Linked DNA regions of Homo sapiens: region 2 is linked to region 1. The links come from fine-mapping of genetic effects on plasma protein levels. Region 1 holds a variant in brackets. A gene starts in the other region. All regions are shown on their forward strands.

Region 1 (5,394 bases):
GGTTGCCAATCAGTTAATTGACTGAATTTGACCAGTTAATAAGACTGTTGTTTGACAATACAGTGAAAATGGCCAAAGTATAAGGTGGAAGATATATTTACTATTATTAACAATGAGGTATTACTAAGCAAAGCTATCTGAAAAGTGGAAGATAAGTCCAGCTTTAAAAAAAACAACAGTAGGTAGAATAACACAAACAAATTACATTAAATTTAGAGGCTAGTATAGTGGAGTTTACATATATCTATGGCAAAAGTTTCAGAGTTCATTACATTTTGAGATTAGAGAAGATAATTTACCTTTGCATAAAGTAAATGATCATAGTCACTGTTTTTTAAAAAACCGTTTTTATTTTCCTATTTCCTGTGTTCCATTGTGAGCAAAGCCCTATATTATCAAAATTCTCATTTTATTGCCAAGGTAGAAAATTACTCATTTTGTCCCACTAGGGCACGAGCAGTTACAAAATGAGATCAAGTGTGGAAGGAAGCTCAGCTAGACAGGAGGAGATTGGGATAGGTATTGCATGTTCTGTGAACAGTTGTCAAGTGCAGAGAAGCCAGCAGAGGCAGGTGTCTGGATCCAGGCTTTACTGAGTTCCAATTCCAAGAAATCAAAGCAGCATGAATGAGTAACCCAGCAGAGGAGCCCAGGCAGAGGTTTGAAGTTGCAGAGAACTAGGAACCCAGGTGGCATAGAGGCAGCGAGAGTAAGTCTTACTCACTCTAAGTAAGACAGCATTTAATGCGTAACATCCAAACTTCTCTTTCTCATTCTTGGCACCATCATCCCCCAAGATCCATGAGCTAAAAACCTAGGAATCTTCCTGGATTTTCAGCTTGTTTTTGCATTCTAAGGCAATAGTGAAATCTACCACCTTTACCCAAAAATATACTGCAGTGGTTAATTTTATGTGTCAACATGGCTGGGTCTTGGTACCCAGATATTTGATCAAGCACCAGACTGGATGTTGCTATAAAGGTTTTGTTTTTTGTTTGTTTTTTTTTAAAGATGAGATGATCATTTCAAGGTAGGATAGAGGCAGGAGATCTGGAACTAGTGTGGACAAGAGCATACAGAGGAGCGTGTCAGGAGAAAATAATCTTTTGAGGCAAAAATTTATTATAAGCTTTAAGCTTATGGGTCTAGAACTGATCTCAGAGTGTAAGTGGTGCTAACCTCCCTGGGGTGTTCAGAACAGGATATAGAATACAGCTTGCAAAAATGCTTTGGAAACACTGAAGGACGCTACTAGTGGTATGATTCTAACTTTGTTTGATTTCGCTGGAATTATTTAATTAAAAATAATGAGCTCATTTAGTCAGAACCTCAAACATCTGCACTACTACCAGCTCATTTTGAAAGAACAAGGTGAATGCATGGAATTTAGGAAAATTTCACAAGATGTGTTTAATTTATGTTTATGTCACAAAATCAAAGCACTCAGTTACTTTCATTTGTTTATTCCTTAACAATAAAGAAAAAAGAGAAAGCTTTACATGAACTCAATTTTGATTTAATTAAAGGAAAAAAAAATGCTTACCAGATCCTTTTTTCCTCTTTTGCAAGAGGAAGTTCCGTTTTGCCAGCTAGCAGCTATGTGCTGTTAAGTATAAGCCATCCTTACATATTTACTTGAATCACCAGTTCCAAATTACAAATATAAAAAATGTTATTTTTAAAGTTATTCTCATAAAATATTCTCTCCAATGATATAAAACTTACATTGATTTTTCCTTTATTGCAAACTTCACTATTAAATTATTAACAAATAATACCAAAATGTGTTGAGATGTGTCACACTACAAAATCCTATTCTAGTCTGGGCGAGGTGGCTCCCACTTGTAATCCTAGTACTTTGAGAGGCTGAAGTGGGAAGATTGCTTGAAGCCAGGAGTTCAAGACCAGCTTGGGCAACACAGTGACTCTATCTCTACAAAAAATAAAAAATGAGTTGGTTATGGTGGTACAAGCCTGTAGTCCCAGCTACTTGGGAGGCTGAGGCAGGAAGATCACTTGAGCCCAGAAGTTGGAAGCTACAGTGAGCCATGATTGCACCACTGCACTCCAGCCTGAGCAACAGAGTGAGACCTTGTCCTTTAAAAACAACAAACAAACACACACCTTTTCTAGGACATACATGCATTTAATTTTACAGTTTATTGTATTCGTATTACCCAAATTTTCTTTTCCCAGTTGATATTATTCCTTTCTGTTTTCTGCCTTGTATGTTCCACTCCTGGACAATCCTTGGGCATGTAAGGTGGGACTTTGCATGAGACTCCTCACAGTGAACTAGGACATTTTGAGAACATCCAGCTGAGGGCTGGTACCTTGGCAGGCCCTCAGTCCAGGTTCTCCTTCCAGCTTCAGGGATCCTCGAAGAGAGCTGGCCCAGGCACAGTCATCAGTACCTCTTTTCCTGCAATCTTAAGTCTTTAGGGAAATGGAAGAGTTGGAAACTTTTGACCTAAAAGATCGTCCTTGTTACATGAATCCACTTAGCCATGCTTGCTTTCTTCTTCTTTTCCTGCTTCTTTCTTTTTAAACAGACACCAGGCAATTTTTAATCTATAATGAAGATCACAAGCGCTGCGTGGATGCAGTGAGTCCCAGTGCCGTCCAAACCGCAGCTTGCAACCAGGATGCCGAATCACAGAAATTCCGATGGGTGTCCGAATCTCAGATTATGAGTGTTGCATTTAAATTATGCCTGGGAGTGCCATCAAAAACGGACTGGGTTGCTATCACTCTCTATGCCTGTGACTCAAAAAGTGAATTTCAGAAATGGGAGTGCAAAAATGACACACTTTTGGGGATCAAAGGAGAAGATTTATTTTTTAACTACGGCAACAGACAAGAAAAGAATATTATGCTCTACAAGGGATCGGGTTTATGGAGCAGGTGGAAGATCTATGGAACCACAGACAATCTGTGCTCCAGAGGTTATGAAGGTAAGATGCCTGGAATTTTCACCTTCGTGTTGAAATTTTCTCGTCTTCTTAGTTGGAACCTGATTCAAGAAAATCATCATGTTCTTGTTTGGCGTGTACTAGAAATATCAATTGATCAGCATCTTTGTGTTTTCAACTATTCTGTAGGACTATTCTGAGGACATGATGGTGAATAAATGTGATTAAAAA[G/A]TCCTGAATGATACTTCAGCTATTTTTACTTAATGGGAAGACATTCTTTTAACTTTCTCTGAGGTTTTATTTTTTTAACTATGGGCTACATTTTTCAGAAAATCGTTTTCATTGTAGTCTTTGACCCAAAGCCTCCTAGTTAACATTATAAAGTTGTAGTGATAAATACATTTAGCCAAATATGTCTTTTCCTTTAAGTTATCCCTGGAAAAATGATCCATAGAACATTCTTTCCCAATTTAGATTGCCTAAGATGAAATCTCGGCAGATCCCTTGGCGACATGGGATTCTAAATGTTACTGATTTATTTTGTCAGGTTATGGGTATTTAGAGACTGTAATAATCAGAAGATTATAAAATCTCTAGGATTAGCTTGTAAATTAATATGCAGTCTATTTAGTTAGCCATCAGAGAAGGTGATACCTCCAATGCGGTGGGAGGAATCCTCTTATATGTAGTTGGTTTCTTGACCTCTTGAAGGTTAAATAAAATCAGAGTATTTAGTTCTTTCTTATATTGACCAAATTTCACTATCTGGTGGCTGCACAGAAAACAAAACAAAAATACAACACAACTTGAAGGCTTGTTACAAAGGCTGGTCTCTTGAGTCAGATGATGTTATAATCACATTTTAGGTTTGGATACTTCGTTATTGTGAAGTGTTATCTAGAACAACCTCAAGGTCAGAGAAAGAGCCTACTTTTGGGGACAAGAGATAACCTGTTTCCAAAATTGCTATGTTACGGGGCTACTAAGATTGGTTGAACCTAGCTTATCTCAGCTAAGACTGAGCATAGCAATTTAGTTCTTTATAAGGCAATAATTTGTGAGCTTTCCATTTTCCATCTAGGCACAGAAGAAGGGAGAGTAGGAATTGAAGTACGGTGAGAGAAGGGCTCAGAAATAAGTTATTTTGAAGCATTTTTCAAACATAATATAGGTTTAGAAGTGATATGAGGGGCAAGCTAAGTGAACACAAAAAAAACCTTTCAGGAGAAACTCAACAGAAAATTACAAGGAAGGAGAAGGGTGAATTAAACTTGACGGAGTCAAATTCCACAGGTGGGACAATTGTGCTAATTGAGGAGTTTAACTTGAGGAAGATTGGCGCTAAGAAATCGGATTTTTATTTTATTTTAAAATATAATATTATGCTTCCCTCACCCCCTACCCTTTCTGTTTCCCCATTGGTTTTGAGACAAATATACATAGGGTTTGGGCTAATAGTTCTCAAACTTTAATATGCTTAAGAATCACTTGGAAAGTTTGTTAAAAATATAGATCCTAAGCTCCCCCTTCTACTAGATTCTTAATATACATATTGGGAAAAACCCCAGGAATCTATTCAATGATTTCTATGAAGACCCGGGTGATTCTGTGGCATAGGGTCTATTGACTACATTTTGCATACTCCCCAAAGATCTCCCAGCACTTAAGATGATCCTGCTCCTCAGTTCTAGCTCTGCAGAGTGACCACGAGATTGGGAACACACATTAGAACTGAAGACAGTGTCGAGAGGATGTATTGTAGGGTCTCTGTATCTCTGATGAGAACATGGGGGAGGGGTAGAATGGTGGAACTTTTTGAAAATAGGAATTATTTTAGAAGAATGGAACCAGAATTGTAGACTTAGATGGATTTGATGGTTATTTGGAAGTTCAGACTCCAAGAAGAAGACAAATTGACTGCAGTTACATGATGTGTCAGTGGGGTAGTTGGGGTTCTTTTGGCCTCATCAGTGTTGGGTGTATAGAATGGCTCAGTAGTTATTAAACAGAGTTAGTTAATAAAGCTGGCAGGCGTGGTGGCTCACGCCTGTAATCCCAGCACCTTGGGAGGCTAAGGCAAGAGGATCACTTGATTTCGGGAGTTCAAGACCAGTTTGGGCAACCTAGTGAGACCTAAACAAAATGTAAAAATAAGCTTGGTACTGTGGTGTTCACCTGTAGTCCGAGGTATTCAGGAGGCTGAGGTGGGAGCATTACTTGAGCCCAGGTAATTGAGGCTGCAGTGAGCCATCATTGCGCCACCTACTGCAGCCTGTGTGACAGAGTGAGATCCTGTCTCAAAAATAAAATAAGTAAATAAAGCTATATGTCATTGGCATCTGTAAATCCAGCGCTGAACATTTCTTGGCTAATGATGACCAGTACAACTAACCCCAAGGTGGTCTTGACTGGTTTCCTTTGTACGAAGAAACAGTCATCCCAGTGACTAAGAATGGCGCAATTATTTCTGAATACAGCGTGT
Region 2 (5,394 bases), not on the chromosome of region 1:
GTGTTCTTACAAAGAAATAAGAGAAGAGTGAATATCACGTTATGTAACTATCAGTGCATGCCGTGATATGTTTGATGTTCATTTGAGGTTTATTTGTAAGCGTCTAACTTATTTCCTCTTCTATTAATAATTTTTGCATGAGAAGATCCAGATTCTACTATTGACATTATTTCTTTTATATCCTTAACAAATATCTTTCCATCAAGATGTGCTCTTACTTTTTTCCCACTGTATATGGGATTCCAATAACTACTCCACTAGTGGACATAGAAGCAATGTCTAGATCTAGTTCCAGTATAGCTCCTCTTTAAATTCTCATTTGTATTTTGGTCTTCATTTAAAATCTTTCTCTAATATAGTTCAATATTTCTGTTTTATTTAACCTGTAACTGGTCACACTATTACATCAATGACTGTGGTGTGTTACTTTAATTTTTGAGGGCTTATAATAATCTTCTAATATCTGTTATGGAAAGTTTCCTTTCACTATTATTATCCATTATTATTAGAGTTTTTGTATTTTCTTCATAATTTATTTTTTAGGCAAATTTTAGCCTCAGTCCTAAAAATCTTTCCAGAAAGCACATCTAAAAATCCTGTTAATATTTCTCATTTATTGTACAAATTTATAAATTAACATGTTGATAATGTTGAGTCTATTGAGAAACATTGTATGACTTTAAAACTGTTCAATTTTTTTGTAGTCTTAGAGATTTTTCCAAACAGATCTACCATAATTATACATTTATATGTTGGCCCTTTTGTTGACAATAAAATGAGGACTTTTCTTCCATTTTCACCTATTATATTTCCCAATTGCTTTTATATATAAAAGCTATTGATTTATATATAGTAATTTAGTTCTTAACCACTTTAGTAAATTTTTTCTTTGTAGTTACCCTTCTAGTTTATTCTCTTATGTTTTCTGAACACTGTCATATCATCTATAAGGGAAAGTACTAGCACATCTTCATTCTCAATTTTATACCTCTAATTTATTTATCTTTACTAACTTTATTGTTTGGTATCCTCAAAGAAAAGTTAAATGATTATAATGCTGGTGGTCATTTTTATTTTATTTCTGACCTTAAAGGAGTGCTCTTAAGATTTCTCCATTGAGAACAATCTGGCATTTGGTTTTAGAGTAACACATCTTACAGTACATATTCACGTATATATTCTTATAAACATTTAATATACTTTTAAAATTTCCAGAATGATTGCATTCTTGATCTATAGTAGCAATTCCTACCATTCCCTTTTATATTAATATATCTGGAAAATTTATTAATTATCAAATGGCTATTGGGTAAATAATATGACAGGAAAAAAGAGTGGAATCATGCTGTAGGATGTTTAATGTGGACCATGCCAGGAACAAGCAGTACCAGTGACCTACTATGAAGCATATGCATCTAATTGTGTAAATAATTGAGATTTTCAGATGCATTACCTATTAATAAGGCAAGAATTTTTACTATGTGTGAATAAAACTTCAATAACAGTGGTTGAAACAAGAGAGTGGGGTGTTTCTTGCTCAGGTAAAACTCAGATATAGGAATTCAAGGACATCTCATGGCTCCACAGCCCTCTGGGACTCAAGCCACCTCCAGCTTTGCATTCTGTCATCCCTAAGATAGTGCCTTGCGTTTAGGGGTCAGAATTGAATTTCAATCATCACATCAATAATCCAAGCCACAACATGGAGGAAGGGAAGAGGAATTGACATGTGCCCTTCATTTTAGGACATGTTCCAGAAATTGTGGATACTATTTCTATTTATGTCTCTGTGGTCCACACTTAGTCACATGGTTGCTTGTGTAAAGCAAATTGGAAATTTAGCCTTAATTCTGGGAGACCATATTCCCAGCTAAAATTCTACGATTCTTTTACTAATAAAGAATGAAAAATAGATATTAAGAATTAACTAGCAGGTTTTGTTCCAGCAGGCTGACTTTCATTATTGAATTGAGCTAATTAGATATTCTTTAAGCTTCTTTCTTGAAGCAGAACATTGTATTACAACTGGATCACACATATTTTTAGTACACATTTGAAGATTATTATAAATCCTAGTATTTCCATCTCCAGCTATTTAATATTTTCCATGAAATATGTTAAAGTATTTTTATTAGAGGGAAGCATTCTAAAGCCATTTGTGATGTATTTTGTAATCACAATGCAGCCTGGGAAACTTCTGGAAGGTTTTTGTTGATAAATAGTTTTATCTAATACATTATAAACAAGCCTAACCTTGTATTTAGGTTCTGACACAGTATTCTGACGCTGAAGAGTCTGGGAAATTTAATTGTCCTAAATGTTAGCTAATACATCAATTTCTTCTACATTTTCACCCTATCCAGGAAAACAAAAAAGCAAAGTGTTGATATGCTGTGAGGTTAGCAAATATCATGACTTCCTCTTCCATTCTCCAATAAAAGCCCTGCTACGATCGCAATCCCCAGCTCTGGCACAATGGCTTTTCTTCCTTCCTGGGTTTGTGTACTAGTTGGTTCCTTTTCTGCTTCCTTAGCAGGGACTTCCAATCTCTCAGAGACAGAGCCCCCTCTGTGGAAGGAGAGTCCTGGTCAGCTCAGTGACTACAGGGTGGAGAACAGCATGTACATTATTAATCCCTGGGTATACCTTGAGAGAATGGGGATGTATAAAATCATATTGAATCAGACAGCCAGGTATTTTGCAAAATTTGCACCAGATAATGAACAGAATATTTTATGGGGGTTGCCTCTGCAGTATGGCTGGCAATATAGGACAGGTAAGAATGACTCTTGTTTTCATTGTAATGATCTACCGATAGACCTATGAAGTATTTGGGAAATTGGACTCTGTATATACCCTACTATGTTTTTAAAAATTGATTCTTTATCTTGTTCTCTTTTCCCTTATAATCATTGTTTTTCTACCTATCCTTCTCCTTATCCACAAATCCTTCTTTTGTGGGTTGTGTGTTATTATTAGAAGCTTCAATGAGGCATAAGACATAGTTATCAACTGTGAAAAGACATCACATCTCATCTATTGAGCATTTCACAAATATTTGTTGAAGTTCTACTAAGTGCCACACTCCTTTCTAAGCAATGAGATGAACAAAACAGTCAAGGGGATATACAAAGTGATGTCCAATTAGTTTGAATTTCTTGAAGTTCTAATTATGATATGAGGTTATAAAGAAGCATCACATTGTTCATGAAGATCTTTCTCTGTAAAATGTTTGCTTCCTCTTGGAAATAAGGTACCTTACAGTGTATAGACAGAAGTTACATTTTGGGATAAAATATACATGAATTGAAAGATACTTTTGTTCTGGTTGATAGAAGCTCATGAGAAAGAGTGGTGCCTGTTGCCCACTCCCTGCTGATGACACAGCCAATAAAGAAATTATTGTGTGTGAGAGAGAGGTTAAGAAAAGAGCAATTTCATTTGGAAGAAAAACAATGATTATTTTCTAATATTTACATAATGCATATTACAGGTGAAACACCTTTGGTGCTTTTTCTCACCTCACATCACAACCTTATAATGTAGTTAATATTATTATCCCCATGTCATAGATGAGAAAACTAAGGCATTAGAGGTTATTTAGATAAAGTCAAGCTAGTAAGTGGTAGAGCAGGGGTTTGTTTTGACTCTCGACCATCTCTTTTCATCTGTATGCATATTGCTTCATAGTTTCGATTAGAAGGTAGAGGAGGAAATAGAAGAGAGTATCCTTACAAAAGTAAATAATATTTAGGACCTATAACTCAAAAGTAGAAAACTGTGTTGTTAAGGAAAAGGAAAGAAATTAGAAACTAAAAAATAAAAGATAAAAAAAGAATGATGGGAATACAAACACATATCATTCAGAAATAAATGCTTTTGTATCTACAAACAAAATCTATGTGGTTAAGCAATAGTTACAGCCAGTTTCAAAATGCGTATAATAAATACGACTGTGCATCCTCTCTCCTCCAGGCAGATTAGCTGATCCAACCCGAAGGACAAACTGTGGCTATGAATCTGGAGATCATATGTGCATCTCTGTGGACAGTTGGTGGGCTGGTATGTTCGTTTAAGTGGCAAAATAGATATTAACCTTTCCTGAAAGAAAGCATTCAAACCTAAAATCTTAGGGACAGAGACAGAACTAAAATAATCCTGTTCCTATTTTAAAAAGGAATCTATTTCACCGTGTACCTTATGGCCTTTAGGTCACTTTAAGGGATTTAAGAGCCACAATGTCAATAATGATTCCTTAGGACATATCCAGCTTTTCACAGAAGGACGAAAACAAGGTTCTGCAAAAGCAGTGGCCTCTGAGGGGCCAGCTCTGGTAGTTAGGTGGGAGGTCCAACTGATGACAAAGAATCTCCAGAATAAGGAACGATGAGAAGTGAGACATCAAGACAAATGATGCTTTTTCATTTTGCTCAGACCAGATGTGGTTAATATTGAAACCCATAAACATGCCAGAGATTAATACCTACTGCAATTCATTATACCAATCAGTAATCTCAGGCTTTAATCATATACTTAATGCTAAAATAACCAGAAGGTATTTTCTAATTCTTTCATTTAATTTTATGCTTTAGTAATGAAAACAATTTATACCACAAATCCTTAGAGGTATTTCTCAATAGTTAGAAACACGACCACATTAAATTTCACTTTTTCAGGGCAACACACATCATATGTATCCTTAAGCATTTTCCACTTACTACCCCTAGTTCTTTTAAAAGACTCGCGAATAGTAGTGGCCACAGATCTAGAATTCAGAGTTTGTTATTCTTAGATTGGTTTAGTAGTTTGGAGGATTAGCCTGCTACACTGTGGCATAGGATTCCATTCACAAATGCCTGTCTAGGATGAAATATTCTACATCACTGATTTCTAGTGGAAATCAGTATAAGCCTAATATCCAACTAATGAAAATGTCTGAGTCTGCTGGAATAGGTGATATATAGGTAAAATTTTTTAAAATGTGAAAATAGTCATGTTTGATTGTCAGTCTAATGGTCTATTGTCAAAACTTACCCAAAATTTGTGCTTTAAAGGATAAAATAAGATAAAAATTTAGTGATATCATGATTACAAATTAAACTTATGTGTATAAAATAGAAAACATTCATTTACCAAAGCTATAATCATGTTAAAATATTTTAGAGAAAAATACAAGTACAATTCACAATAAAACCGTAATGAGAGGTTTTGTACCATTTTGTGGAAAAGTTGATAGCTTTCTTCCATTCTTACTTAATGCTTTGAAAAAATGAATATTATGATATCCATTAAAATTACTTTTTGTTTTAAAATATAGTCAACTACTTTAGCCAATATGTTATATATTTATGACTATAAGGTTATTAACAGAAATGCAATCAAAGTTATATATTT

Direction of the effects. Alleles are on the strand shown, and positions count from the first base shown. The strength of an association depends on the size of the effect and on how common the allele is.
With allele A in place of G in region 1, the plasma level of the protein whose gene starts at base 2,464 in region 2 is higher (weak association).

The links. A credible set is the group of variants that fine-mapping cannot tell apart. PIP is the posterior inclusion probability: the model's chance that the variant is causal. The UK Biobank Pharma Proteomics Project read protein levels with antibody pairs (Olink). The fine-mapping took linkage between variants from a reference panel, not from the people measured, so its PIPs are less certain.
Region 2: C6orf58 starts here. The variant in region 1 is the best candidate, but not a certain one, in a credible set for the plasma level of the C6orf58 protein (UK Biobank, PIP 0.84).

Annotation. Positions count from the first base shown.
Region 1 is chr10:17,820,522-17,825,915 of GRCh38, forward strand. It overlaps MRC1 (mannose receptor C-type 1), which reads left to right. Exons shown (of 30, transcript NM_002438.4): 2 at 2,553-2,954. Among named protein-coding and RNA genes, the nearest start is that of MRC1, 14 kb to the left of the region's middle. The variant G/A (reference allele first, on the strand shown) is at 3,144.
Region 2 is chr6:127,574,711-127,580,104 of GRCh38, forward strand. C6orf58 (chromosome 6 open reading frame 58) reads left to right here and starts at 2,464. Exons shown (of 6, transcript NM_001010905.3): 1 at 2,464-2,776; 2 at 3,976-4,062. The coding sequence starts at 2,476.